Regions from separate parts of the Homo sapiens genome. Here regions 2 and 3 are each linked to region 1. The links come from fine-mapping of genetic effects on gene expression. A gene starts in region 1. Each other region holds a variant in brackets. All regions are shown on one strand. Distances are between the middles of the regions.

Region 1 (10,339 bases):
TCAAAGTTTTCAACTTCTTTGCCTTTGGTTTGAATGTCCTCCCGTAGCTCAGAGTAATTTGATCGTCTGACGCCTTCTTCTCTCAGCTCGTCAAAATCATTCTCCATCCAGCTTTGTTCTGTTGCTGGTGAGGAACTGCGTTCCTTTGGAGGAGGAGAGGCGCTCTGCGTTTTAGAGTTTCCAGTTTTTCTGTTCTGTTTTTTCCCCATCTTTGTGGTTTTATCTACTTTTGGTCTTTGATGATGGTGATGTACAGATGGGTTTTCGGTGTAGATGTCCTTTCTGGTTGTTAGTTTTCCTTCTAACAGACAGGACCCTCAGCTGCAGGTCTGTTGGAATACCCTGCCGTGTGAGGTGTCAGTGTGCCCCTGCTGGGGGGTGCCTCCCAGTTAGGCTGCTCGGGGGTCAGGGGTCAGGGACCCACTTGAGGAGGCAGTCTGCCCGTTCTCAGATCTCCAGCTGCGTGCTGGGAGAACCACTGCTCTCTTCAAAGCTGTCAGACAGGGACACTTAAGTCTGCAGAGGTTACTGCTGTCTTTTTGTTTGTCTGTGCCCTGCCCCCAGAGGTGGAGCCTACAGAGGCAGGCAGGCCTCCTTGAGCTGTGGTGGGCTCCACCCAGTTCGAGCTTCCCGGCTGCTTTGTTTACCTAAGCAAGCCTGGGCAATGGCGGGCGCCCCTCCCCCAGCCTCGTTGCCGCCTTGCAGTTTGATCTCAGACTGCTGTGCTAGCAATCAGCGAGATTCCGTGGGCGTAGGACCCTCTGAGCCAGGTGTGGGATATAGTCTCGTGGTGCGCCGTTTCTTAAGCCGGTCTGAAAAGCGCAATATTCGGGTGGGAGTGACCCGATTTTCCAGGTGCGTCCGTCACCCCTTTCTTTGACTCGGAAAGGGAACTCCCTGACCCCTTGTGCTTCCCAGGTGAGGCAATGCCTCGCCCTGCTTCGGCTCGCGCACGGTGCGCACACACACTGGCCTGCGCCCACTGTCTGGCACTCCCTAGTGAGATGAACCCGGTACCTCAGATGGAAATGCAGAAATCACCCGTCTTCTGCGTCGCTCACGCTGGGAGCTGTAGACCGGAGCTGTTCCTATTCGGCCATCTTGGCTCCTCCCCTGATTGTGCATTTTAGCCTGGGCAACAGAGCGACACCCTGTCTCAAAAAAAAAAAAAAAAAAAAAAAAAAGAAGAAGAAGAAGAAGAGCACTTACTAATGACAATAATATATATTTTCTCATAAGCATTTATTTTAACTTAATTTACCATTTTTTGTTTTCTGTAACAGATATTTGCGTATATTTAATTTTACCTTTTCTAACTTTTTGGTCTGAATTTTATAGAGTAATTTTTTAAGGAAAGGTTAAATAAGATTAATAAAGTTACATTTGGGGAAACTTGTAACAGTTTTCACAGGGTGTGAAATGTCACCCCACACACATAACACACAAACACTTAAACTGATGTTGTTTCAAAAAGTTTTTTAGAGATTAACAAAAGCTGTTTAATTATTTCTCTGAAATGTGCCATTCAAATGTTCTTGGGTTTTGTTAGTCTATGAGAAAAATGAAAAGAATCACTGTAAATAGAACAATTAAATTCTGTCCTTAGAATTGCACAACCTCATCCACACAGATGGAAGATTTATTTTCATTAATGCATTCCTTTAACGATTTTGGGTGAAGAGCCTCCTGAAATGGACTTCTTCCTTCCCTGCCTTCTGAAGCAGAACACTCTGCTTTAGATGGTTTGACCTTGTCCGATGACTCTGAGCCACGCTTAGCATTTCAGGCAGAACGAAGGCTGAGATGTCATCAGAGAAGGCCACTGCAGACCTGGGCAGGGACCGTTGGGCCATGCCATGCAGGGCCATGTGAGCTGAAGGCTGTCCCCCAACGCCAGCGTAGGGGCTCCAGCTTCCCAACTTTGTCAATGCAACCAGAGTGGACCAGGGTGAGCACGGACTCCCTCTAACCTAGCTGTCGTGGTGTGAAAACATCTGCAAATCCTCAGAGGCCCTCCCATCAGGAGATGTCGTCTCATTTCCCTCCCCTTTAATGTGGGTGAGCCTTCTTGCTTTGCTTCAGTGAAGCAGCAGTGATGTCCCATAATTTTCCATACTGGATCTTTGCCTGGTGCTTTCTCCCCTTCTGTGAACACACACAGATGGCTACACCCTTTCCCCATATCGATTCTGTTCTTTTCTGACTCTGGCTTTCTTAGTATTGGGGTTCTCAAGTAGCTTCAGCCCTGTCTTGATGGATCATCTTTCGGGGTATGTGCTGATTCAGTCTGAGTGTCCAGGTGTCCACCTCCATCTTCTCACAGGGAAAAGCCAGCAGTACTGTTGGCTCTGCCTTGTTCAGGCTACGCTCCTTTCCTGCTCTGCCTTCTCAGAAACTCCCTGAAGCCTTTTTCTTCTTTTCTTACAAGTGTCCAGAACTTCTGAAAAGCAAAGCACATAGAGGCTAGTGCCATCCACTAGGACTTGTGGAATGATAAAATTGTTCTCTGTCTGTGCAGTCCATATAGTAGTGTAGGGGGGCATCTCAGGCTCCTGGTGGAGTCTGAAAATTAAACTTACATAAGACAAGTTAATAGCAGGAAAGCACACAGGTGTATTTGATACAAGTTTTACATGGCATGGGAGGCCTCATAAGGAAATGAAAACCCAAAGAGGCAGTTAGAGTGTGTTACTTATTTACTGAATTGGACAAAGAATAGTAAACTGAAAATGTGATGAGGCAGAGGGGCTTGGGCTAGGGTAGTTAATTGGATAGAAAAGTGACTAAGAAGATAAGGGTTAGTTTAATAGGGTTTGTACAGAATTCTCTTAGCCTCAACTTCCTGTCTTTGATGATAAGAATGTTGCTTTAGTTCTAGTATAAGAGGGACATCTTTCATATGGGAATTTCATCTCTTGCCTTTAAATAAACAAGAGGTTGGGGCCAGGCGCGGTGGCTCACGCCTGTAATCCCAGCACTTTGGGAGGCCGAGGCTGGTGGATCACGAGGTCAGGAGATCGAGACCATGCTGGCTAACACAGTGAAACCCCGTCTCTACTAAAAATCCAAAAAATTAGCCGGGTGTGGTGGTGGGTGCCTGTAGTCCCAGCTACTTGGGAGGCTGAGGCAGGAGAATGGCGTGAACCTGGGAGGCGGAACTTGCAGTGAGCCACTGCACTCTGGCCTGGGCAACAGAGTGAAACTCTGTCTCAAAAAAAAAAAAAAAAGAAAGAAAGAAACAAGAGGTCAAAGTGTCCAGTGTGTATTCTGTATGCAAAAAAGAAAAGAAAAAGTCAAAATAATCTTCTTGCACCTGTCGTTTTTTGGGTGTCTAACTTTTTTTTTTTTTTTTGAGCAGAGTCTCACTCACTCTGTCGCCCAGGCTGGAGTGTAATGGTGCAATCTCGGCTCACTGCAACCTCTGTTCCACCTCTCAGGTTCAAGTGATTCTCCTGCCTCAGCCTCCTGAGTAGCTGGGATTACAGGCATGCACCACGACACCTAACTAATTTTTGTATTTTTTGTAAATTTTGTATTTTTGGTAGAGATGGGGTTTTACTGTGTTGGCCAGGTTGGTCTTGAACTACTCACCTCAAGTGATCCGCTTGCCTTGGCCTCCCAAAGTGCTGGGATTACAGGCGTGAGCCACCGCCCTCAAGTATCTAACTTAGTCAATCCACCAGGTGTCTAACTTAGTCAATCCACCAGGATGCTATATTTATAACTCTTTCAGTAGCCACTGGCTATGTGTGGCTATTGAGCACTTGAAATACGGCTAGTACAGCCAAGAAATGGAACTTTACATTTTATTTAATATTATTTAACTTGAATGTAAATAGCCACCAGTGGTGAGTGGCTCCATCCTGGGCAGCGCAGGTGTGGGCAGTGGGTCCTTTGGCTCTTCTCCAAGATGACTTCTATTCTTCTCCTGATCCACACCAGGGGTGCTTCTCCTTTCCTTTTCCTTCTTGTTTCAAGGATTCCTCAGCTGTCTCTCTAGTCAGGCCTTATTCTGTGAGGTTCATCTCTCTGCCCTGCCTCCTTTCCTCCCCCAGCCTTTGGGAGAATAAAACACTAGCTCTACCCAGTAATTAAGGTTTGAAGGTTTTCTCCCACTTTGGTGTGGACTGGCAGAACGGTGGGAGTGCCCACAAATTTCCTGTGACAAAGAAGAGAATGAAGGAAATTACTAGAAACCACCAAAAATGTCTCTCTTAATTGCAAGTGCTAGCTTCGGGGAGGCAGTCTGTTCCAGCTCCTTTTCAACTGACTACAGATATGAGAATCTAGAACTGTGTGCTTTAGGATAGGGATGGAGAGTTCTTTTCAAAATGTGCATTTTCTAGACCCCAGCTGCAAGAGACCTTGATACCAAAACCCAGTGGCCTAGGAATCAGTATTTCTTAAATATCCATTAGAGCTTCTGCATCGAACCACGTTAGGGAACAACTGATTTAATCAACACACTGATTTACTTAGGAGCTTTTGACTTAGCCTCACTCCATTAAGCCCCCATAGACTGCTCTGCTTTCCAAATGCTTATGTTCACTTTTTACAGTTTTTCTCTGGTCTCCCCTGCATTTACGGTCACCTCCAATTTCCCGCCTCCTTCTCTCTCCAAAAACACACAGCTCAGCTTTTCAAAGTTAGAATAATGCATGTAGTAATCGTAAATAAACTGCACGAAGAGCTGAGATTTCTTTCTATCTCTACGGAGTCCTGAAATGTATGAACTCTGTGACATGTGCTTTAGTCAACTTTCTTTCTAGGAGTTTGGCCCCTCTTGCCTTGCCCTCTACAGACAGTCTTCATTTTCTAAAATTTTGCATGCCAGTGCCCAGAGTGTATTTATTAACAGTTTGAAACTGTCATAAATCTCACTTGGCAGTGATTTTCTTATTAGTTTCAGCATCTCTGCCTTAGCACTGCCAAGCTTGAATGGTCTAGACATTGTCTTCAAAAATAACTCCCTCTGGGACAGGCCTGAAAGTCTCTGGCACAGGATCCCATCTATCTATGGATACTTCTCCTAGGAGATTAGAAGTCTTCCTGGCAGGCAAACATTTTGTCCCTGGAGATCCATCCACTATGGCCAGTATTATGTAAAGGATAAGAGTTCAATGGTTCACATCCATTGAATATAATTCAGTCAACAAAAGAGTGGATTATGCATATATTGCATATATGCAACTCATTTATAACCAAGGAAGAGAGGACCAACAGAAAGTTACAGTTTGGGGAGATTTAAAAATAACTGAACTTATATTGGGGACGTCTTGCTCTTGGAGATAAAAATGGCTCTTATTGCCAGCTGTTGCTCGTTTTTTGGTGGGCGGTATCAAGCATGTGATGCTTTGGTGGCTACACCAGATTCTCTTTTGCAGAACTTGCATGAAGGGTGTGGGTTCCATCCAATCTGTTATCCCCTGTTCCTTCATCCATCCCATTGCCATGCGAGTCTTACTGAGGAGGTGATCTTTACTAGAGGCCACGGATCATTTTTCCATTTCTGCATACATACAAAATTAAAGTTCACCTTGGCCCAGGACCCCTTTGGGGGGGTCACGCCCCCTGCGCCGACGTCCTGGGAGCTAGCGGTGCGCAAGCTCGGCTCACACACACCCCGCCCCGGGGCCTCCTGGGAACTGTAGTAGGCGGCTCGCGAATCCCCGCCGCCATGACAGGACCCGGACTACAGCTCCCGAAAGGCCTCGCGCGTCGCGCCTGCGCCTGCGTCCCTGCGGCCGCCAGAGGGAGGGTTAAGGCGCCTGGGCGCACAGCGAGCCGGCTGAGGGGGCTGTGGCGGCCGCGGCGGGCGACATGGACAACGCGGGGAAGGAGCGTGAGGCAGTACAGCTGATGGCGGAGGCCGAGAAGCGAGTCAAGGCCTCCCACTCCTTCCTCCGAGGGCTGTTTGGGTGAGCGCCAGACCGTGCGTGCCCTGGGGGGGGGGGGTCTCCGTACTTGGCCCCCTTCCTTTCAGGCTGACCCCCCGAGTCCCCCACGCAACCTCTGGGGCCCTCAGACCACGTCTAGGGGCCCTCAGCCTGCAGGCGCCCTCCAGAAATCCTGTAGGGTCCCCCAGCGCCCCCTGGAGCCCCCAGGACGCCCAGGGGCCCTCAGTCCGCACGCGCCCTCCAGAGACCCCACAGGCCCCCCCAGGGTCCCTGGAAACCCCGCATCCTCCCAGGGGCTCTCAGCCCCCACGCGCACTTTAGAGACCCCCTAGGGCCGGCAGAACTCCCCAGGGTTCCTCAGCCCCCACACGCTCTCCGGATCCCCTAACACGCCCCCTTAGAATCCCCAGAGTCTCACAGGGACCCTCAGCCCCCACGCGCCTTTCAGAGAACCCCTAGGACCCCCAGAGCTCCCCAAGCGCCCCACGAAGCCCCTAGAACACTCTGGGGGGGGGGCTGTCAGCCTCACGCGCCCTCTGGAGACCCCAGATCGCCCCCCTCGCCCTGGCCCGGGTTGGTGCGGGGGTCCCACGACCTAGAAGGTCAGCGGCTCCCTGAGGCCCGCGGGCGCGGTAGCTCGGGGCGCGCGTGGGGCCCCCTTCTCAGTGCGTAGCGAGTCGTATTGGTGCATTTCGCCACGCTGAAGCCCGTATCGCTCCTGAGACCGGTCCGGGTGAGGCGCGCCGGGGTGGAGCCGGAGGGGTGGGTGCGGGGGCCGCCCCCGGCGCCTGGAACGCGCACCTGGGGGCGTCCCGCCTGCAGGTGGGCCCCGCCGGGGAGGGGGCGGTCCGGCGAGGGATCCAGAGCTGGTGTGCTTGTTGGCCTCTCTCCAGGGGCCTTGCGCCGAGTACACCTTTAGTAAATACTTGACTAATGAACGAATATATTTTCTCAGCATAGTATTTTTCCTTCTCCGGAGATTGATTGATAGCCAGAGCCTCCTGTTTGATTAACGGTAACGCTGCTGCTGTTTAAGTCAGGCGTCCTTTGGGAATCCCTTTAATTTCCTGTAATTCTTCCGTGCTCTCCTAAGGAGGATTTTAAATTCCAACCTCTCAAAAAGCAGAGCCCGCACTGACAGCCCGGAAGAATTCTGGGCTGTTGAATATGTGAATGATTCAGCTGTTTAGGATGAGAAAGGCAGAAATTTTGTGTGTGCCTGTTTCGTTGTTTTCTTTTGAAAGTGAAAGATCCTTTGCTGTTACCAAGAGCAGATACTTAACCCATTGCATGACTAGACACGATTTTATTTCTGTACACATTCAGTTCAGACTCTATTTCAGAAGACAGACATAATGGGCTCTTAGCTTGTTTTGCCAACTTCATTCTTTTGGCTATAAATTATAATACTTTACCGCTATTGATACGTCTTTAGGAAATGCTTAAGGACAAGTTGCATGCAGTACGCATAACTGCAGAAATGCATAAAGGCTGCAAAAATGCAAGAAGATAAGGGTCCCTGTCCTCAGGAACCTCTCAGAGGACGTTTATCACAGCTGGTTTCTAAATTTCTCATGTGATGTGTAGGAGATATAGCTATGAATTATGTTTTGTTTTGCATTTAAAAGTTATGACAGTACCATCAAGTGCTAGCGCCACACTAACTCCTTTTAAATGTTTTGATTCACAAAACATTTAAAATTCACTCTAATAAAATTTAATGTCATAGTACCTCATGCCAGGAGGTTATTTTAATGTTACAACATTATTTCAAGTCAGGAAGTGCTTCCCTGTGGGAGAGTCTGTAACTGGCAGAGGAAAAAGCTTGACAGCACTTGGTGCTTGTCTCAGGAGAACACTCCTTTTGGGAAAGAGGTTTTCGATGTTTTTAGGAAACTAGGCCAAATCTTGAGCTTATAATCCTTAAAGGATTTTGAAAAGCCTTTGTTTTTAAAGAAACATCTCCCTTTTAAATGTTGCTACCTATGTTATTGACAGGACATATAAGAAGACGAATCTTCACCATTCACACTCAGTTACACAAAAGTTAATGCATCTTAGTTCTTACCTGGGTACAACAGGTTGGTTTATTATCTAGCTTTGGGACCTAGGGCAAGTTACTTAGCCTCTCTGTGCTTCAGTTTCCAGTGTATAAAACGGAGACAATAATAGTATATCTCAAAATTTATGGGAGTTCAGTGAGGTTATGTTTATAAAACATTTGGAACCATGGATGTTGGAGACAGTGACCATGAGATATTAATTAGCATATTCATCAAAATTATCAGCTCCAGTTATTTATCAAAGAAGCAGTAGGCCAAACAGATAACTTTTCCAGAATTTCAGAGCCGTAGACTGCATCATTGATTTTTTTTTTTTGAGACGGAGTCTCACACTGTCACCCGGGCTGGATTGCAGTGGCGGGATGTCAACTAACTGCAACCTCCGCCTCCCAGGTTCAAGCGATTCTCCTGCCTCAGTCTCCTGAGTAGCTGGGATTACAGCCACCCGCCACCACGCCCGGCTAATTTTTTTTTTTTTTTTGTATTTTTAGTAGAGACGGGGTTTCACTGTGTTGGCCAGGCTGGTCTCGAATGCCTGACCTCGTGATCCACCTGCCTTGGCCTCCCAAAGTGCTGGGATTACAGACGTGAGCCAGCACGCCCAGCCTCATTGATCTTTTAATGAAATAAAATATCTGAAAGAGCTTTAACCATTAATGTACCATGCAAGTGTGATTTATACTTTGAAGACTGTTATTTCCAGTAATACTTGCTCCAGGAAAGCTTGCAGGAAGAAGAGTACTTAGAATTTTAGGAGTTTAGTAATATTGTATAATTACTGAAGCCAGAAAACAGACGTAGTGTTCCTGTGTCAGTAGGACAATTAAGATTCTGTATCAATTTTAGATGTTTAGAATCCTACCTTATAGATGGCATGTATCATCACCTTTCTAGACTGGAATACATGTTATTCCACCCTGCCCCTGCCTTCTTAGCTATAGAATGTCACCATTTTCATTCCTAAAGGTCTGCATGTAATCCTTTATTTAAAACGCAGAGTAATCCATCTCTATGTCAGACTCCAGAATTAATGTAATACAAAATTAATAAAACACACATACTGACTTGAATATCATCAGAGCTCATATATTTAAGAGCTGACTAGCTGGTGCTTTAAAGAGGATAAGCCATCTGTTTTCAGGTTGTGGCAGTCATTAAAAGCTGCTTGGCATATTGCAGATATTTCACATCACAGACATTCTGAATGCTCTATCTGCAGATTAAAGCCTGTCATGAGTTCTCTAGTGTTTACCACTCACAGTGGTTTTGTGGCAATACTGTATTCTTAGTAGTATTCTATAGCTTTTGTTTCTTGCTTTCAGTAAAATTAGATGAAAATATGCATATGTATTTATGAGAACATGTCAGTCAAATATTTCTTCTCTGTGTAAGGCACAAATCCTCTGCCTTATCTGCTTGATAGGTAAGGTATCAATATTCCTTTCCCATCCCCACCTTCCTCCCCAGGAAAAGAGCTGACAAGGGATGCAAACATTGCAGGAAACCACTGTTGTGGTGGTTTGTGTTTCTGCTTAATTGCCCGTTAAGCAGTAATGTGCTTTTGTAGTTGTGGAATTAAAACTTTTTCTCAAGTTTGTAGTATAGTACGTTTAGTAAAACTACTTCCAAAGGAGTTGTCTTGTCCTTTAGTTTGTTGCCAGGGATGAGCTATGGAATTTTGTAGTTAATTTCAAATTCCAGTTTATAATGTTAATGAACTACTGGTATGATTTTAAATCGGCCTGAGTCTGACATTAAGATAGTTTTGAATTGGAAAAGCCTCTTATAATACTATCCCCTCCATCTTGTTGCTATGAGACCCGGTTGGGAATAACCTGCACAATGCACATAGAAGAAAGTGCTTAAGACTGACAGTGGAGGCCAGGTGCAGTGGCTCACGCCTGTAATCCCAGCACTCTGGGAGGCCGAGGCGGGTGGATCACTTGAGGTCAGGAGTTTGAGACCAGCCTAGCCAACATGATGAAACCCCGTCTCTACTAAAAATACAAAAATTAGCCTGGCGTGGTGGCGGGCGCCTGTAATACCAGCTACTTGGTAGGCTGAGGCAGGAGAATCACTTGAACCTTGGAGGTGGAGGTTGTAGTGAGCTGAGATTGTGCCACTGCACTCCAGCCTGGGCCCCCGAGCGAGACTCCGTCTCAAAAAAAAAAAAAAAAAAGAATGCCAGTGGAAAGATGTTCTTTATGGTTAATGCTGTCTTCCTTTGCCTTTCAGTGTTTAGTCTGAGTTTACACAAGAGCTACAAATTTGGCAATGTCAATGTAAATTTAATGAAAGGCCCCATTGGGTTATCTTGAAATAATTATGAATCTATAATTTGTTGGTTGTTTGTGAAAATTGTGAATATTTCTTAAGCAT
Region 2 (10,339 bases), 27 kb after region 1:
ATCCTTTAAAGACAGTTCCAAGTTCCCCCTCCACCTCCGAGAATGGAGTCTTGCTCTGTTGTCCAGGCTAGAATGCAGTGGTGCGATCTCAGCTCACTGCAACCTCCGCCTCCCGAGTTTAAGCGATTCTCCTGCCTCAGCCTCCGGAGTAGCTGGGATTACAGGCATGTGCCACCACGCCCAGCTAATTTTGTATTTTTAGTAGAGATGGGGTTTCTCCATGTTGGCCAGGCTGGTCTTGAACTCCTGACCACGAGGAGTGCCTGATCCACCCTAAGTGCTGGGATTACAGGCATGAGCCACTGTGCCCGGCCCAACACTTCCAAGTTTAGATAGACCGAGCTAGCATTTGCTGTCAGTGATTGGAATGAATAGTCAGAGTGAAAAAGTAAGCCAGCAACTCGTTTTGGAATGTGGGAATGTGAAAATGTAAAATTAAAGCGCTTACTGTTGTCTGGAGAAATGGAGGTAGCCCAGAAGAGCCTGGGTGTTGTGGTATTACTGAGCAAGAAAAGGATGGCCCATGACTGATTCTGAGACAGGAAACATAGATAAGTTATCAAAAATGAAATGCCAGCAGGAGAGCAAGGATGTAGATTGTAAAAAAAAGATGGCATTTCAATATGCCAAACCACAGATATGATCTAAGGCTAGATTTGCATGTAATAATGAAAGTGGCCACCGTGTGTAATGTGAGTCAGGCCCTTCTAAGCACTTTACTTGCGAAGTCCAAGCTATTACTACGTTCTTCTGAGGCAGAGCCCATTAAAGCTCCCACTTAGCCAGATATGTTCCTGAGTTGCCACTTCATGGTTAAGTGCTGCCCCAAGTACCCCAGGTGCCTGGCCACTGTCCTGGCAGTGGCCTTTGCCCCTTCTGGATACCCACCAGCCTCTCATGATTCACAAGGGGCCAGCAGGGCTTCTTCAGTTCCAGCTCTAGCCCTGAGGCTGGCATGTACTCTGATTGTTCAGTGCCTTGGTTTCTTCCTGCGGCTATAACAAAATACCTTAGTGTAATTTATAAAGAAAATGAACGTATTGTTCAGAGTTCTGGAGGCTGGGTCGTTTAAGATCAAGGTGCCAGCAGATCCCGTATTTGGTGAGGACTGTTCTCACCTTCCACGATGGCGCCTTCTTGCTATGTCCTCACGTGGTGGAAGGAACAAGGCAGTTCTCTTCAACCTCTTTTATAAGGGCACTCATCCCATTTATGAGGGTGGTGCTCTCATGACTTTATCACTCCCCCAAAGGCCCCACCTCTTAATACTGTCAAATTGGATATCAGGCTCCAGTAATACAAATTTTGGGGGGATACTGCCATTCAGATCATAGCACTACCCATGTCATGCTGGTGGTTACATATTTTTCAAAGATGCCTGGGTACTCTTTTTAATCAGAAACTGTGGTACAGAGCAAGAATTGAACCTGGGCAGGTGGGCTCCAGAGTTTGTACTGTCCCTTTGCCCTCAGGTTCAGAAACCCACATGAGAACTGTGCATTTCCTCTGGGGAGAGGGAGTTGGAACAAGAGATGCAGCTGAAGCTTTAGCAGAATTGGATGTTTACGGCCAGGTATAATCATCTGTAATCCCAGCACTTTGGGAGGCCGAGGCTGGAGGATTGCTTGAGCCCAGAAGTTCAAAACCAGCCTGGGCAACATAGCACCTGTCTCTACAAAAAAAAAAAAAAAAAAAAAAAATTTTTTTTTTGAGACAAGAGTCTTGCTCTGTCACCCAGGCTGGAGTGCAGTGACACAGTCTCGGCTCACTGCAACCTCCGCCTCCCGGATTCAAGCAATTGTCCTACCTCAGCCTCCCAAGTAGCTGGGATTATAGGCACCTGCCACAATGCCCAGCTAATTTTTTGTATTTTTAGTAGAGACAGGGTTTCGCTATGTTCAGGCCAGGCTGGTCTCGAACTCCTGACCTCAGGTAATCCACCTGCCTTGGCCTCCCAAAGTGCTGGGATTATAGGCTTGAGCCACCAAACCCAGCCAAAAAAATTTTTTAAAGAATTAAAAATAAAAAATAGCCAGGTGTGGTGGCACATGCAGCTACTCAGGAGGCTGAGGCAGGAGGATCTCTTGATCCTGGGAGGTGGAGGTTGCAGTGAGCTGTGATCACGCCACTGCACTGCAGCCTGGGTGACAGATTGAGACCCTGTCTTGAAAAAAAGAAAAGAATTGGATTTTTTTTCCTCACAAAAAAAATTTATAGCAAATGTTTAATATCAGCAGTGAGTACTGCTTTATGATAATTTTTTTAGAAACCTAAAGGCTTTGTGATATTCTTAACCATGCTTTTCCTGGTAGATCAGATTCTTTCCTCTCCATTTCTGCTGTACTGACTTCCCCAATGTGACTCATTTTTCAGAGGCACTCTGCTGTGTTGCTTTCTCTGAACTCAGGAAGTTTCGCATGTTGATGTTTAAACCCTCTGGGAAGTGGCCTGATGCAGCCTCAGCCTTGATTTCCACTGGCCTCCTCCAGTCAGGGCAGGCTTGTCACTGGCCTCCACTTCCAGCCCTTTCTTACCTTCAAGCATTTCTTCTGTGTTCCTGTGACTCCTCTGCTAGCGATTCCTTCCCTCTTTCTTTTCCAGCACTCCAGAATCCATGGTCCCTGATCCAAAACCTTTTCTGAAAAAGATTAGTTCATGTACCTTATATGTTGTACTGTGTCCCAGTTGGAGACCTGGGTGGTACCCCACAACCAGATCCATCAGTGATTCTGCAGGGAAATTTGTAAATTCTCACACTAAATGGGGTAAAATAGATTAAACCTCATATAAATTTCAGTCAGATTTTGCTATAAAGTAAAGAAAAAAATTTGGATTTTTAGACTTTTCTGGATTTCAAAATTGTGGGCCTGATTTTCACTTTTTAGGAAACTTACTTTATCCATGAAGCCTTCATTAGCAGTTTCTTCCACACCGACAGCTAAGTGTAGGAGACACTAAGATAGAAAAGTGAGCAAATATCTTTGCGCTCAGTGTTTTACCTTTCTTTAATCATTTGTGGCTTGAAGCCCTTAGCTGATGTTTATTATATGTTAGTGGAATTGAATTGAGTAGCCCAAGACTTGGCTACTGGTATTGAATGGACAGATCAGGGAATAGTGGCTTAGTGCCCAGGGACACTTGGAAAGTCTGCTGGAGCTGAGGTGGAGAAGCTTTCATCGCTGTTTGACTTGATTCTGGTTATTTTTATATTTGCCCGAGGTGCACTGGACCACATGGATTTTTGCTTCTGACTAGAATGCTTCTTTTCAGTGGAATATAATTTTTCTAGGGAGGTCCAGTGCTTACAGCATGGGCTGCTCTGGGGGGGACTTGTTCCTCTGTGTTTAATTGTAGTGTCTTCTTCAGCTGCAGGAAACGCATTTTGTCAGGCAGCCAAGCTCCACATGCAGCTTCAGAGCAAACATGACTCTGCTACCAGCTTTGTGGATGCTGGAAATGCTTACAAAAAGGCAGATCCCCAAGGTAAGACAGCCAGGCATGTAGCATGCTATCTCTGTGTGTAACTAACCAGTCAGTACTTCCCTCAACGTTAAGGTCAGTGTTGGTGTGCTTTCAAGTCCTGGTAAAAAGGAATTTTTGTATTTTGGAATAATAGAGAATTTTGATAACCTTAGGGATTTTTCTTTTTTAATCATTTGGGGGCTTTTATGAGGAGAAATTATGTTAAATTTATACTGGCTGTTTACTTTATAGCATCATTTAATTAAACTCTTATTTATATTGCATTTTAGAGAATTTTTTGGAAATTACCTTTAATTTTATCTAAGACTTCTTATATCTTAATTTTGTGAAAATGTATATTGTTCATAAAAGGAAACTCTTATGTTCCCTTACTCCTAAATACCTAAGGAGTTTTCAGATCCAGTTAATGGGAGATTGTAATATTCAATCGTTAAAAAGTCTGATTCATACAGTATTCATTTGGTTTTTTAAAAAGTTTTTCAAAGTATTTGTTTTGAGGAAAGAATGCAATTGGATATTTAATGTGGTAAAATTTTGCAAAGATTATTTCTTTTTAGTTAGAAGAGTGTAATTAAAAGTATTAATTTCTTACCTTCCACACGCGTGCACAGCGGAAATTTTGTGTTTTTCCTTTTTCTTTTAGCAGTCCATTTTGTTTAACACACAGATCCCAAATTTTGAGAATAAATATGTCATAAAGAAATAGGGTATCTTCAATACCTTTGGTATAAGGGTTAATCACAGTTTATTTCCCAAAGTGACAAACTGGACACAGGTTAAATAAGCTGTTAGAGTGGTAACATTGTAATGCATCAGTACTTTAGAATATGGTGCAGGCATTAAAATCCCTGGTTTCAGAGAATCTTCAGTGACCTGGTAAATGTTTACATGTCAATTAAAGAAGCACATGAGACTGAATGTTGTATAATCTCATTTTCAGAAAAAAGTTTGTGCATATAGAAATGTGTCTAATAAACGCAAAAGGAAAGTACATCTGAGTACTAACAACGGATTTGAGCGGGATTATTGATAGATTATTTTTCTCTTTATATTCTGTATTTTAAAAGGTGTAACAGGGATCCACATTTTTTATGTAGTTTAGAGGGAAATTGTTTTAATTTTTGTTCATCTGCTTACCTTTCTAATTTTGTAGTCAGGCCTTTCTACTTTGCTGCCTCTTTAAACCAAACGTAATAAACTTGGAGCTGTCACTGTATGCCAGCATCATAAACACCATCATTTTATGATAGGGAAAATTTTTTGGCTCACTTGTTTAGAAAATTAGTAAAATTTATTAGCATTATTATTTATTAGATTTGTTTCTTCATTTTGTTAGTATGCTACAATTTAGCATCTTTGAACATTATACAGAATGTTGACTTTGCTTAAGGGTTGTTTGAATAGGCATTTCAAAGTGCTTTTGCTTTTGGCTGCATGGAGAGTAGAATCTATTGAGGTGATTGTTCTTGTGATGTGGTGCCATGTTCCAAAATTAATATATATGCATGGTATTAATGAGGAATATGTTTGCATTCATATTTTAGCAGATACAATTTATCAGTGTTGGTGACAACCTCTATGGTTTTATTTTCTTTATAATACAGTCTTTTGCCTGGATGGAGTCCTCACTTTAAGGTTAAGAGTAACTAAGCCAATGTTACTCCAGCTACAGTTCCCTAAATTATACTATAGCTGCTGGGAACAAAGCCATGCTGATGAATCTGGACTTGTGCATGATTTTTGTTTGCTTCTCATTAACCTGCCCACCCTCCACTCCAAAATTATACCTCATTAACGTTCTGATAACAGCCAGGAAGACAGCCTCACCTGAACCCTCTTTGACTGAATGGATTTTTCATTGTTTTTCTTAAATGCCTACGCTTCAGAGGCTATCAACTGCTTAAATGCAGCCATCGACATTTACACAGACATGGTAAGACATTGCATTGCTTGAGTGGCTGTGGGGTGGAGTCTTGAGATGGCTTAGAGTTCTATCTTTCTTTTTTATGTTCCCAAACTGGCATTCAGATAGGTAAAATCGGTGTGTGACTGTTTCTTGTTTTTTCCCCTAGGGAAGGTTTACAATTGCAGCCAAGCACCACATTACTATTGCAGAGATCTATGAGACTGAACTTGTAGACATTGAGAAGGTAAGCAGTGGGCACACTTCCTCAGATGTGAAGCAGGCAGATAAGCTGACTCAAAGAACTCTCCTCTCCTCAGTCTGAGAGTGATCGTAGGTGTAGAGTGGTCATAGATGGCCTTGCCTGGAGACTTTCTGGCAAAGTCTACTAGCTGGCTAAGTAGATGGGCTGTTTTCCTGGAGTGGACATCTAAGACATGAGAGCTGATTAAGATTTACAGAGATCACCTGTTGTTTCCACTCTCTCTGATTCATGTCAGAACATTAGCATTGCCAAAAGAACCTTCAGCTGTATTGCTTAGTACTCTAAGGCCCAGTGAAGAAAGTGTAAGAGGTCACCTCTGTACACTCAGTCAGCATCACAGCTTTAAGTATCTGTGTGCCAGTGACTCAGAAATCTGACTGCAGCCTAGACCTCTCTCCAAATGCTAGATTACTGTATCCACCTGCCTGCTGACCTCTCCACTTTGTCCAGCAGTCATCTCTAACCCAACATGTCTGGGACTGGATTCTCAGATGTCCCCAACCCAGTGTTCCCCGCTAAACTACAGGCTTCCTTGCCTTTTCTCTTTCTCTACAACCTGTGAGCAATTTTTGTGAGCGGTGTCCTTCCTGCTCCCAAGTCTTGGCACAACTCACTACCTTGTCTCTCAGCTCACACTTGATCGCTGCAGGATCCTTCAAACCGGTCTCCCTGCTTTTGCTCTCCCTACCTTGCCAACCCCACATCCCCATGCCACAGAGTAGCCAGAGTGAGCCTTCTAAGCATTGCATCATACTCTGTTTCTCTACTGCTGACAGTCATTAGACCCCTTTCACTAAGAGGAACAGCTGGAGCTGTGCAGAGCCTTCATGG[G/C]TCCACTGAATTGCTTCCTCCCAGCCCCACACTCCCCATGCATCTGTGTGGCCTGGCCTCTCCTCTTTTCTGTTATTCTCCTCCTCTTGCATACCCTGCATGGCCATCCTGGCCTCCTTGCTGTTCCGCACACATGCCAGATGAGCGCTCCTGCCTCAGGACCTTTGTATCCACGATTTCCTCTGTCTGCAAAGCTCTTCCCCAGATGTCCACGTGGCTGACTCCTCACATCTTTCAAGTCCACATGGCTAACTTCCCCGTGCCCTTCCATTTTTGCTCATTTATTACCTATTTCCATGATTAACTATTATGACCCCCTAGTTAATTTAGCCCCCCAGGAAGACATAGTAGATCCCCACACACCTCACTTAACTTCTTGTATTGCTGAGCAGATGTCTCCTTACAATATGCCCTCTCATATGCTTGCTCATCATTCTCATTTTGGTTGTCTCTCTCCCTCCGCCAGATTGGGCACACGTGTCAGCAGAGAGCTTTGTCTCTGCTTTGCTGATGTGTCCCAAGAGCCCAGAACTCTGGGACCTAGTGGGGTCTAAATATTTGCTAAATAAACAAATGCTACCCCTACCTCCACCATACCAAATGGAGTCTTCCTGGTCTGGGGAAGGATCTGCTAGGCGTTACTGAAATTGGACTGGCATTGTTAACGTTCACTCTTTTGACTGTGTGACCTCCACCTGTTGGTTATTCAGCACAAAATTTGCTCATATTTGTTACATAAAATTTATTATTTGACCTTTTTTTTTTATAATTGCCATACTTTTCTGAGGATACTCCCTGATCTTGATCAAGTCAGGGCCACCCTGTGCATTGACGTGTGTGTGAGCCTTCTCTTTGGAAGGTTATCTGTGGATCCTGGAGGCAGGTGATGGAGCTGGATCTGAACCTCCTTTGTTCCCTGGTGTGGAATTGATGATGGAATGGGAGGGAGATGGATCTGGTGTGGCTGGGGTATTTATTTGGTCAGGGTGTCTGGGATGGCCACAGTATCTTTATTTAGGTTTGAGTGAGTCTTGCGGGGATGAGCACTGTGCGCAGAGCATCTTTGCCAGCAGAGGCTCCTGTTCCAGCTTCCTCTTTCACAGTGGTCAGAAGGGCACTCTGGGGCAGGAGCCTGCAGTGCTGTGTCATTTCTGCTGCCCAGGCATGGTCTCCAACACATGGGTCTCCATAAACTTGAGAGCAGATAAAATGAAATGTGACATACTCTTTTTTTCTCTTGAAAAAAAAAAGGCCAGGTACAGTGGCTGATGCCTATAATCCTACCACTTTGGGAGGCCAAGGCAGGAGGATCACTTGAGCCCAGGAGTTCAAGACCAGCCTGGGCAACATGAGAAATCCCCATCTCTACTAAAAATATAAAAAAAAAAACTATCCAGGAATGGTGGCGTGTGCCTCATTCTGTTCCACAGGCTGGACAGGTTGGAGTGGCATGAACACAGCTCACTGTAGCCTCAGCCTCCTGGGCTCAAGCGATCCTCCCACCTCAGCCTTCCAAGTAGCTGAGACTACAGGCATGTGCCACCATGCCCGGCTAATTTTTTAATTTTTCATACAAATGAGGTCTTTTCATGTTGCCCAGGCTGGTCTCAAACTCCTGGACTCAAGCAGTCCTCCCATCTTGGCCTCCCAAATGCTGAGATTACAGTCATGGACCATCATGCCTGACCTTCACGGAATACTGAATTTTAAAATGCAGCTATAAAAGAACAGGTGTACTATGGTTCTCTTTTTGCAAATACTTAGTCACACACAGAAATAGTCTGGAAGAAAATATTTCTCTGGAAGAAAATATTTCTTTGGAACACCTGTCAGAGCTGTCATGTACACACATGTGAGATTACCTGATGAAGGTACATCTCCTCCCTCTAAAATGTGGGCTCTGTGAGGGCAGGGCCCATGACTGTTCCGCTCACCATCACAGCCCTGAGCCTAGCATGATGCCTATTTACAAAGTGGGTGCTCAGTAACAGATGCTAAGTGAATGAAGACAAAGTGCATCACAAATGAAAGCTGCCTATAGTTCCATGGCCTGTTTTGTTTTATTTGTTTTCTTGTCCCTGCAAATCTCTTCTAACTCACTAGGAGCTGCCTTGAAGCCACTTAACTAATGGGCTTGGGCAGAAAGGCAGCACCTTTAATCTGATTTTCAGAGACTGCTAGCTCCCTCATTTGCATTTGCTGTGAAACCTTTGTCATTCAAGCATCCTGCAAACCCACCACCTGCTTCTGTATGTTTGCATGCTAAAAATGGTTTTTACGGTTTTTAATCCTTGAGAGAAAAAAGCATTTTGCGACGTGTAAAAATTATATGAAATTAGAAATTTCATTGTTCATAAATATAGTTTTATTGGAACACAACCACACTTATTCATTTATATCTTGTGTATGGCTGCTTTTATGCTACCACAAGAGAGCTGAGTAGTTGCAACAAAGATGCACAAAACCTAAAATATTTCTTGTCTGACCTGTTAGAGAAAAACTTTGGCTAGAGCCCTGGTTTAAAGAGCTGCTCATACTTATCTCTTGTTATTTGGGGTATAGAAGGTTTTTTCAATCTTATGAGAGCTTTATTTCTAAGGCTGTCTACCACCGTCTACAAACCAGCTGATTCTTTGCAGAGTTCAGCTCTTACAAAACTGTGCTAAAAACAGCAGCACACACTATCATCTGACTCTTCTCAGCCATTTTGCTTAGTTTTGGACTCCGGTAGACACTTATTTTTTTGTTTGTTTGTTTGTTTGAGACAGAGTTTCACTCTTGTCACCCAGGCTGGAGTGCAATGGCGCGATCTCAGCTCACTGCAACCTCTGCCTCCCCGGTTCAAGCAGTTCTCCTGTCTCAGCCTCCCAAGTAGCTGGGATTACGGGTGCCCACACCACGCCCGGCTAATTTTTGTATCTTTTTAGTAGAGACAGGGTTTCACCATGTTGGCCAGGCTAGTCCTGAACTCCTCAGGTATTCCACCCTCCTCGGCCTCCAAAAGTGCTGGGATTACAGGCATGAGCCACCGCACCTGGCCGACACCAGTTCTTTTTTCTGAGTTGTCACGTGCTTGATTTCACTAACTTCTACCACAGCATGACAAGGACTTCTAGCTTTCTGGCCTGTGATCTCTGTTTCTTCTCCACTTGATGCCATATATTTTAGATTGACGGCAACACCCTTATTCTAGGTGACACTTAAGGTATTAGTGTGTGTAGTCTGTGCTGCAAGTCATAGACGTAAGGTGTAATTAGGGCTTCATAGCTCTCTAACAATCCAGTGTGGCTGCTAAGGGTTTGACAGTGGTAGAGACACTGGGGTTGGAGGTACCTTGTGTCCTTTGTAATTACTTAGGAACCTGCCTGACAGTTCTGCCATTTTGGTGTCTAGCTTACAGTGTCACTCTGGACTTGGTCATAGCCCTCCTAGCTCATGGGAAGTGGAAGGCCTGGAGGAGGATGCAAAGTGAGATATATGGCCCAAGCCTGGGAGTGGCCCCCAACATGTCTGTTTACATTCCACTGGAGAGAACTAGTCATAGGCTGCCCCTCACTATGGAGGAAGCTGAGGAAGTGGTGTAGCTGGGCATATGCCATGTGGGGAGGGGGAAACAGATTTTGATGGTCAGCAAGCATTCTGCTTCCAGAGGTGCATGCTTTCTTGTATTTCCTAAAGAAAGTAGGCCGAGTTGTGAAAAGTTTGCTGGTAGAGTAGGTTTATTTATGGAAAAATACCTATGCAAATGTAGTTTTAAAATGCAGCTCTCCAAATAAATTGTGTGTGAATAAAATATGTATGTTTTCAGGCTATTGCACATTATGAACAATCTGCTGATTATTACAAAGGAGAAGAAT
Region 3 (10,339 bases), 38 kb after region 1:
GTTAAAGTTTTTGTGGTGGTGTTTTTAGTTCTCTTAGTTACATACCTGGGAATAGAATTGCAGTTGCTGGACCATGTGGTAAGTCCATGTTTAACTTTTTGAGGAACTGCCAGACATTTTCACAGTGGCTACACCATTATACCTTCCCACTAGCAATGCACAGTGTTCCAGTTTCTCCACATCCTCACCAATACTTGTTTTGGTTTTTTTTTTTTTTTTTTTTTAAATAATAGTCACCCTAATGAGTGTGAAATGTTGTCTCATTCTGTTTTTGATTGTTATTTCCCTAATGACTAGTGATGTTGAGCATCTTTTTATTTGCTTATTGGCTATTTGTATATCTTTGGAGAAATGTCTATTCCAGTACTTTCTCCGGATTTTAATTTGGCTGTTTGTTTTTTGGTGGTGAGTTTTAGGTGTTCTTTATATATTCTGGATATTAATCCCCTATTAGATATGTGATTTGCAAGTATTTACTCTCATTCTGTGGGTTGTCTCTGGACTCTGTTATTAATGTCCTTTGATTCACTGAAGTCTTTCATATTTTTGAAGTCCAGTTTGTCTATTTTTTCTTTGTCTGGCTTTTGTTGTTATATAGAAGAAATCATCGCTAAATCTGATATGAGGCTTTTCCTTTCTGTTTTGTTATAGGAATTGTATAGTTTTGGCTGTTAGGTTTAGGTCTTTTATCCATTTTGAGTTAATTTTTGTATATAGTATGAGGTAAGGGTCCAACTTTATTCTTTTATATGTGGATATCCAGTTTTTCTAGCACTAATTGTTGAATAGAACTATATTTTAACTATTGAATGGTATTAAGACCCTTATTGAAAATTATTTCACCATATGAAATATGAGGGCTTACTTCTGGGCTCTCTATTCCATTGATCTATTTATCCATCTTTGTGCCAGTATTACACTGTTTATATCTGTAACTTTGCAGTAAGTTTTGAAGTCAGTAAGTGTGAGTCCTCCAGCTTTTTGTTCTTTTTCAGAATTGTTTTGGCTATTCCAGATCCCTTGCATTTTCATCCGAATATTAGGATCAGCTTGTCAATCTCTGCAAAGTAGCCAGCTTGGATTTTGATAGGGATTGTATGGAATGTGCATACCAATTTGGAGTGGTTTTAGGGTTTTCTAGAGAAACAGAACCAATAAGAGGTGTAGGGGTGTATGTGTGTGTGTTTGTGTGTGTGTGAGTGTGTATGTGTGTTTAGAGAGAGAAATTACTGGAGGGAATTGATTCGCTTGATTATATAGGCTGAGAAGGCCTAAGATCTGCATTCTGAAGACCCAGGAGAGCCAATGGTATAGCTCCAGTCCAAATCCAAAGGCCTCAGAACCAGGAGAGTTGATGATGTAATTTCTAATCTGAGTCCAAGTCTGAATCAGGAGAATACCAGTGTCCTGGCTCTAAGACAGGCATTGAGAATGAATTCTTCCTTTTAACCTTTTATTTTATTCAGGTTTTCAGTAGATTGGATGAGGCCCACCCACATTGGGGAGGGCAATCTGCTTATTCATCCTACTGATGCAAACGTTAATCTCATTCAGAAACACCCCACAGACACACTCAGAATAACACCAAATATCTGGGCACCCTGTAGCCCACTCAAGGTGACACATAAAATCAGTCATCACAGAGAGTATTGCCATCTTAACAATACTAAGTCTGACAGTCGATGAATACAGGTTCCTTTTATATTTATTTGGATCTTCTTTCATTTTGCTCAACAATGTTTTGTAGTTTTTGGTGTGTAAGTTTTGTATTTCTTGGGTGAAATATACTCCAAAGTATTTTATTTTTTTTTTGACGCTACTACAAATTGAATTATTTTCTTAATTTCCTTTTAAGATTGTTAACTGCTAGTGTATAGAAATACAGTTGAATTTTGCATATCAATTTTTTGTCCTGCAACCATGCCAAACTTATTAGCTCTAATAGGTTTTTTTGTGTGGATTTCTTAGGTTTTCTATATCCAAAATCATGTTATCTGCAAATAACAATAGTTTTACTTCTTCCTCTGCAATATGAATGTGTTTTACTTCATTTTCTCGGTTGCCCTGGCTAGAATCTCCAGTGCAGTGTTGAATAGAAGTGACAAGAGCAGACATCCTTGTCTTGTTCCTGATCTTGTAAGGAAAACTTTCGGTCTTTCATATTAAGTGTGATAGCGGTAGATATCAGTAGTGGGGTTTTGGTAAATGCTTTTATCAGTTTGAGGCAGTTCCCCTCTCTTCCTAGTTTGTTGAGTGTTTTTATCATCAAAGGGTATTGGATTTTGTCAGGCATTTTCCTGTGTCTATTGAGATAAACATATGATTTTTGTCCTTTATTTGTCAGACTTTTTTCTGCATCTATTGAGATAAACATGGTTTTTGTCCTTTGTCAAACTTTTTTCTGCATCTATTGAGATAAGCGTATGGTTTTTGTCCTAATCAGCTTAATATTGTAGATTACATTGATTGATTTTCATATGTTGAACCAACCTTACATTCCTGGAATAAATTCTACTTGGTCATTGCAAACTTTGAGGGGTTTCCCAAGAACACCCTCAAGTTTATTAATAATTTGTTAGACAAACTTACAGAACCCACTGAAAGCTGTTATACTCACAATTATGGTTTATTACAGCAAACGGGTACAGATTAAACTCAAAGGAGAGACTCATAGGTCAAGGTCTAGGAGACTTCCAGGAAGAGCTTTCAGTTGTCGGCTCTCAGTGGAGTTATGTAAACAGCACTTACTTCCCCCCACAGTAATAAGTGAAAATAAGCGTAGACTGCTGCCAACCAAGGAAGCTCCCCTGAACGTGGTGTTCTGAGTTTTTATTGGGGTCCAGTGACATAGATGTTGACCACCCTTGTGGCTGACTTTACTTTTTGTAAGTGCCAGAATTGGTTTGCTAACATTTTGTTGAGGATTTTATGTCTATGTTCATAAAGGATATTGATCGTTAGTTTTCTTGTGGTGTCTTTGTCTGGTTTTGGAATCAAGGTAATTCTGGTCTCAGAATGCATTAGGATGTCTTCTTCCTCTTCTGTGTTTTGGAAGAGTTTGTAAAGGATTGGTGTGAATTCCTCTTTAAATGTTTGGTAGAATTCAATTATTTCTCTTTTTTTGTTTTTATTTTCACTGATTTCTGTTTTTATTGTTATTTCCTCCATTTTGTTTTCTTTGGATTTGTTTTGCTCTTTTTCTGGGTGCTTGACATGGAAGTTTAGCTTGCTGATTTTCATCTTTGTTGTGTATGCATTTTTAGTGTTATCAGTTACCCTTTCATACATTTGGCTACTTCCCAATTTTATTATATCATTATACTTTTATTTTTATTCAGTTAGTTGGATTTATTGATTTCCCTTGAGACTTCAGTGACCCATGGATTATTTAGTAGTGTTTTATTTAATTTCCAAGTGTCTAGCAGAGATTTTTCTGTAATCTTTCTATTGTTGACTTATTTTTAATTCCTTTGTGGTTAGATAACATATTTTTGCGTGATTTCAATTCTTATAAATTTGTTTTGTTTTATGGCCTAGATATGGTCTATCTTGGCATATGTTTTATGATTATGCTGTTATTGGGTGATGTTTATAAATGTTGATTAGCTCCTGTTGGATGATGGCATTGTCGAGTTCTTTAATATACTTGCTGATCTTTCTTTCTTTCTCTTTCTCTCTCTCTCTCTCTCTCTTTCTCTCTTTCTCTCTCTCTCTTTCTCTTCTTTCTCTTCTTTC[TCTTCTTTCA/A]GACAGAGTCTTGCTCTGTCACCCAGGCTGGAGTGCAGTGACTTGATCTCAGCTCACTGCAACCCTCCACCTCCCAGGTTCAAACTATTTTCGTGCCTCAGCCTCCCGAGTAGCTGGGATTACAGGTGTGTGCCATGTTGGCTAGGCTGGTCTCGAATTCCTGGCCTCAAATGATCTGCCTGCCTTGTCCTCCCAAAGTGCCAGGATTACAGGTGTGAGCCACTGCGATTGGCCTTTGATTTTCTTTCTAATTCTATCCATTGTTGAGAGTTGGGTGTTAAAATCTCCAACTTTAGTTGTGGATTTGTCTGACTCTTCTTTCATTGTGTCAGTCTTTGCGTCACATACTTTGCAGCTCTGGATTGCTATTCTTGCTGGAGAGACCCTTTTATCATTACATAATGTCCTTCTCTGTCTCTGGTAATTTTCTTGGCTCAAGTCTACTTTATCCACTTTATAGCCCTGCCTGGTTTCTTTTGATTAATGTTTATATGATATGTTTGTCCATTCTTTTTCTTTCAGCCTGTCTATATCATTATAACTGAAGTGAGTTTCTTGTAGTTGGATCTTGTTTTTTTTTGTTTGTTTGTTTTGAGACAGAGTCTTGCTCTGTCTCCTACACTGGAGCGCAGTGGAGTGATTTTGGCTCACTGCAACCTCTACCTCTTGGATTCAAGTAATTCTCCTGCCTCAGCCTCCCGAGTAGCTGAGATTACAGGTGCGTGCCAGCATGCCCGGCTAATTTTTGTATTTTTAGTAGAGACAGGATTTCACCATGTTGGCCAGGCTGGTTTCATACTCCTGACCTCGGTGATACACCCGCCTTGGCCTCCCAAAGTGCTGGGATTGCAGGCATGATCCACCACAGCCAGCCTGGATCCTGTTTTTTAATCCACTGTGCCAATCTTTGTTTTTCAATTGGTGTATTTAGGTCATTCACATTTAATGCAGTTATTTATATGTTAGGGCTTAATTCTGCTTTCTGCCATTTTAGTTTTTGCTTTCTATTCTTTGCTTTTTGTTTCTCTGTTTTCTTTTTCCAACCTTTTTATGGGTTGCTTTTCTTTTTTTTCTTTCTTTCTTTTTTTTTGAGACTGGGTCTCACTCTGTCACCCAGGCTGGAGGGAAATGGTGCGACCCTGGCTCACTGCAGCCTCCACCTCCCAACCTCAAGCAGTCCTCCCACCTCAGCCTTAGCCTCCAGAATAGCTGAGACTACAGACATGCACCACCACACCTGGCTATTTTTTGTAGCGATGGGGTTTTGCCATGTTGTCCAGGCTGGTCTTGAACTCCTGAGCTCAAGTCTTTTTGTAGCGATGGGGTTTTGCCATGTTGCCCAGGCTGGTCTTGAGCTCCTGAGCTCAAGTCATCTGCCCACCTCGGTCCCCCAAAGTGCCAGGATTATAGGTGTGAGCCACCACACCCAGCCTACTTGATTTTCCAGTGTTTCTAAGTACAGTTATTCCTCAGTGTCTACAGGGGATTAGTTCCAGGACCTCTCTCATATATCAAAATCTGTGCATAGTCAAGTCCCACAGTCGGCCCTGTGGAACTCACATATAAAAAAGTCTGCCTTTCATTTATATGGGTGTTGAATTCCTAAGAATACTGTATTTTCAATCCACATTTGGTTGAAAAAAATCCGTATATAAGTGGATTCACACAGTTTAAACCAGTGTTGTTGGAGAATCAATGGTATATATCTTTGTGTAGCTTTTGTGGTTAAATGCTGTAGGTTGGTGTCATCATTTTATAAGTTCTGGTGAAATATAGAAATCTTACCTCCCTTTCTGTTCTTTTACTCCCCCTATTCAATATATAGTTGTCTTAATGTTTCCTCTGCATACATTTAGAACCACATGAGTCAATGTTAGAATTTTTGTTTCAGCCATCAAACATAATTTAGAAAACTCAAGAAAGAAAGCCTGTTATATTTACCCATATTTTTGCTTACCATGTTCTTTCTTCTGGATGTTCCAAGATTATTGTTTCCTTTCTATTTAGAGAACCTCCTTTTGTCATTTTTTTAGGGTAGGTCTGCTGACAACAAATTTTCTTAGTTTTCCCCTATCTGGAAACGTTTTGATTTTGCCTTCATTTCTGAAACATAGTTTTCCTGGGAGTATAATTCTAAGTTGATTGTTCTTTTCCTTTAGTTTCAAAAATGTGCACTTTATGGCTTCCATGGTTTTACAAACTTCTGACATCAAGTGATCCACCCACCTCAGCCTCCCAAAGTGCTGGGATTACAGGCATGAGCCACAACGCCTAGTCGGCCTCCATTGTTTTTGATAAGAAGTCTGCTGTCATTCAACTTGTTTTCCCCTATAAAAAAGGTGTTATTCTCTAGACACTTTCATAATTTTTTTCTTTTAGTTTCAAAAGTTTAATTATAATGTGGCTTGGATAGATATATTTGGTTTTAAGCTATTTGAGTTTCCCTAAACTTACAGAATCTGTAGGTTTATGTTTCTTGTCAAATTTGAGAATCATTTAGCAGTTATTTCTTCAAGTACTTTTTCAGCTTCCTTTTTTTTTTTTTTTTTTTTTTTGAGACCGAGTCTTGCTCTGTCGCCCAGGCGTGCCAGTTTAATGGCGCAATCTTGTCTCACTGCAACCTTTGCCTCCCAGGTTCAAGCAATTCTCCTGTCTCAGCCTCCCAAGTAGCTGGGACTACAGGTGCTTGCCACCACACCTGGCTAATTTTTGTATTTTTAGTACAGACAAGGTTTCGCCATGTTGACCAGGCTGGTCTTGAACTCTTGACCTCAAGTGGTTCGCCTGCCTTGGCCTCCCACAGTGCTGGGATTACAGGCGTGAGCCACCATGCCCAGCCAGCCCTTTTCTCTTTCTCCTCCCCTTCTAGAACACAGATGCCACAAAAGTGAGACTGTTTTATTATCCCATGGGTCCTTGATGCTCTGTTCCTTTTTGTCAGTTTGTCTTCTCTCTGTTGTTCCTGTTGTTGTCTTCCATTTAGTGCTTCTTTCCTCTGTCCCTTTCATCCTGCTGTTGAGCCCACCCACTTTTTATGTATGGTACTGTTTTTTTTTTTCAGTTCTGAAATTTTTATTTGTTTTTACTTTATATCTTTTTTCCTGTGGCTTCCTTTTTCTTTGTGGATGCTTTCCATTTTTCCATTAGCTTCAGGTGTTATTGTACTTGCTTTTTGGAGCATTTTTATGAGGGCTTCTTTAAAATCTTCGTGGGATATTTTGGACATTTCCGTCATCTGGAACCATCATCTGTTAATGGTCTTTTTTCATTTAGCTTGAGATCTTCCTGTGTTTTTGGTATTACAAGTCATTTCTGATTGAAAACAGGGCATTTGCACATTAGGTTATGAGACTGGGTCTTGTTTAAACGTTCTCTTTTCAGTTGGCCTTCTTTGACATTCCTCTGGCTGGGGAAGGTGGGGATGTTACCTCATTACTGCCAGGTGGAGGTAGAAGTGTCAGCTTTCCACCAGGTCTCTGTTGACACCTGAGGGGCCTAGTCAGCCCTGGGCAGAAGTGGCATCCCCTCTCCTTATCTGTTTCTGCCAGCACAGTGCTGGTTTGTTCTTGGTATGGTGAGAGTCTTCACCCTCCACTAGACCTCTTCTGACAGCACACCAGCTGGAGAAAGAAGGGGAACCTCTTTCCTGCTTGACAGAGACAGGATGCAGGCTCCCAGTGTGGTCTGCACTGCCTTAGTGTCAGGGGGTTGGGTGGGGATCAAGCCTCAGCTCCCTATTTGGCCTTCTCTGAAGCTCCTAAGCAGAGGTATTGGGGTGCTTCTTACAGTCTTTCAAGAATGGACTTTAGGACTCCTTCTTCAGCCTTTGATGATGTAAATGGAGTTAGGGCCTCAGTTTTTCTGTGATATTTGGCTGGAGTAGAGCAGTTATTGTCTAAGTGTTTTCTCTCTTGCTGGGCTGCCCCTTTTCTAGTCCTTTGGCCAGAGAGAGCAGGCTTTTGTCTCTTCTCTTTTTATCTGTGCATACTGGCATTTCTGGGTTGCTGGTTCTTCAGTTTCATGCCATGGATATAGGAAGGGAAAAGAAAACTGAGGGAACCCACTACCACGTTTTCCCTTGGGAAACGTTTGTTTTTTAGAAAATGACCTGGGCTTTTAGTAGTGCTTAGTGGGAGGATTAGGGGAAAGGATGTTTACTCCATCTTATTGGAAGCAGAATTCTTCTGAGCTATTTTTAACTGGTTAAGACTTCATGTATTTAATGGTCTTGTCTAGTAAAATTTCTACTATATGGTATTCGGATAAAATAATATATTTCATAGCTAAACAAACATAAGATACATAATTATTTTCTAAAGGACAACAGATGAGAATGACTTTGCCTGATATAAGAGGGTAAATCTTTTAAATTTAACTCTGCGTTCTGTGCCTAGGTTGGGGCAAACACAATGGATAATCCTTTGTTGAAATACAGTGCAAAGGATTACTTCTTCAAAGCTGCCCTCTGCCACTTCATAGTAGACGAGTTGAATGCCAAGGTAAGGAGTTCTTCAGCATTGATTGACTGATTTCACCCATAAGAATACGTACACATTCTCTCTTGTTCTTGGTATCATTTCATTTTGATGTTAGTACCAAGAATAAACGGGTACATTAAAAATAAGTATTATTCTGTGGTATGTGTCCCAGTTGTAATCTTTTAACAGCTGTCAAAGCTGTTCTCAAAAGTTACCTGATAGTTTATAGCCATACCACCCTGAACACACCCAATCTCGTCTGATCTCAGAAGCTAAGCAGTGTAGAGCCTGGTACTTGAATGGGGGGCACTGCCTGGGAATATTTAGTGCTATAGGCTTAAATATATGTATATGTTCACTGGTAGCCACCATTTTTTTTTCAGTAGTTTTGCTTTAAAGAAATTAAGGGGGCCAGGCGTGGTGGCTCACATCTGTAAACCCAGCATTTTGGGAGGCCAAGTGGGGTGGAGCACCTGAGGTCAGGAGTTTGAGACCAGCCTGGTCAAAATGGTGAAACCCCGTTTCTACTAAAAATATAAAAAAATTAGCTGGGTGTGGTGGCGGGTGCCTGTAAGTCCAGCTACTTGAGAGGCTGAGGCAGGAGAATCACTTGAACCTGTGAGGCAGAGGTTGCAGTGAGCTGAGATCGCACCACTGCACTCCAGCCTGGGTGACAGAGTAAGAGTCCGTCTCAAAAAAAAAAAAGAAAGAAATTAAGGAACTAAGGGAGGAGACAATAAGAGTAGGATAATATCCATTTAAAAAACAACCAAAACAACAGGCAAGCTCAGAAATGGTGTTGGAGTGAGGACTGGGAAGAAGTTGAAAAGCACAGTGAGCACTGGGAGCCAAGAGGCAAAAAGACAGGCAGCCTTGGCATGGCCAGTGTCTGGAGTTGGAAGAGCAGAACTAAAGCCAGTAAGAGAAACTGTTCTTTCTGTCAGCTTCGAGCAGGAAGCTAAATGTAATTTATTTGGAATCTGGACTGTATTAAGAACGTCTCCATTTAATGGATGGATACAGATACCTGGTCTGTGAGTGTTTAAGAATTCATTTTCATTTACAATGTCTTCTCAGCAGCAGCCTAACTCAGAAAAAAGTAGTTTAGAAATTATTCTTTATTGAAATGGAAAATTCAGAATAGAAAGATTTTCTATGTTGATTCTGCTTTTGAGTTTAACTACATACTTTTTCAACACTTAATAGGATATAGGTAGATCTTATTTGAAGCTGATAGAATGTTGAAAGCTTTGTTTGTTTAGTAAGTCTGAAATTGATGAGTGGTTTTTCTCTCTCAGCTTGCTCTTGAGAAATATGAGGAAATGTTTCCAGCATTTACTGATTCAAGAGAATGTAAATTATTGAAAGTAAGTAATATTAGAACTTTGAAGAAAAATGCTTTTGTTCTGTTAGGTGACAACACCTAAGTGGGATTGGGTATGAAGTGAAGTTTTAATCTATAAAGTCTGCTAACTGAGGGGCCCTGGTACTTTCCTGCTTTCGTATTATAGGTGTTCAAATGCAATTAAGGTCAGAAACATGTAGTTGTGTTCTGAAATAGGCACCTGAGAAATGTTACTACAGAAGCTAGATCCCTAACTTGGCTCTTGACTTGTATATGAGTATTTCCTCAGTTTTGTGCAATATTTGGCAACATTGGTATTATACTTAAAGTATATATTTAGAAATGGGACTTCATCTTACAGAACTGTTTTTTAAAATATTTTTATGCTACCAGAAACTCCTAGAAGCTCATGAAGAACAGAACAGTGAAGCTTACACTGAAGCAGTAAGTTATGCTTTTGGGACATGGTACATTATTTGAAGATTTAAGTTAAAGAAACTTCTTTTCCTTTTCATTATGTGAATTCTAAACATTTATTTGAACATGACTCCAGCATACCTTAAGTTGTATTTTCCAAACGTCACCTTTTATATATCACACAAATTAAACAGTTCCATTAGCCATGCTGAGATTCGACTTACACTCAAAACTAATTTAGCTGTGAGACTAGTTCAGGAGCAAATATTCCATTTATATTCTTATAATTTGCTGTTTTAATTTTTTCTTTTGAAAATAATCTGACCCATAAATAAGTATAAAGTAAAATTAGTTA

The links. PIP is the estimated chance that this variant, and not a neighbour inherited with it, causes the effect. A credible set is the group of variants that fine-mapping cannot tell apart.
Region 2: its variant is the best candidate, but not a certain one, in a credible set for the expression of NAPB in whole blood (TOPMed, PIP 0.59).
Region 3: its variant is the best candidate, but not a certain one, in a credible set for the expression of NAPB in whole blood (INTERVAL, PIP 0.87).

What each region holds. Positions count from the first base shown.
Region 1 is chr20:23,416,884-23,427,222 of GRCh38, reverse strand. It overlaps NAPB (NSF attachment protein beta), which reads left to right and starts at 5,735. Exons shown (of 11, transcript NM_022080.3): 1 at 5,735-5,918. The coding sequence starts at 5,821. RefSeq lists enhancers at 732-1,439, 5,357-5,546 and silencers at 5,797-5,886, 6,517-6,746.
Region 2 is chr20:23,390,216-23,400,554 of GRCh38, reverse strand. NAPB (NSF attachment protein beta) reads left to right here. Exons shown (of 11, transcript NM_022080.3): 3 at 3,367-3,483; 4 at 5,370-5,416; 5 at 5,556-5,633; 6 at 10,291-10,339. Among named protein-coding and RNA genes, the nearest start is that of NAPB, 26 kb to the left of the region's middle. RefSeq lists an enhancer at 8,295-8,834. The variant G/C (reference allele first, on the strand shown) is at 6,483.
Region 3 is chr20:23,379,117-23,389,455 of GRCh38, reverse strand. It overlaps NAPB (NSF attachment protein beta), which reads left to right. Exons shown (of 11, transcript NM_022080.3): 8 at 8,139-8,243; 9 at 9,521-9,589; 10 at 9,961-10,011. It also overlaps the pseudogene RNA5SP479. Among named protein-coding and RNA genes, the nearest start is that of GZF1, 22 kb to the right of the region's middle. The variant TCTTCTTTCA/A (reference allele first, on the strand shown) is at 3,736.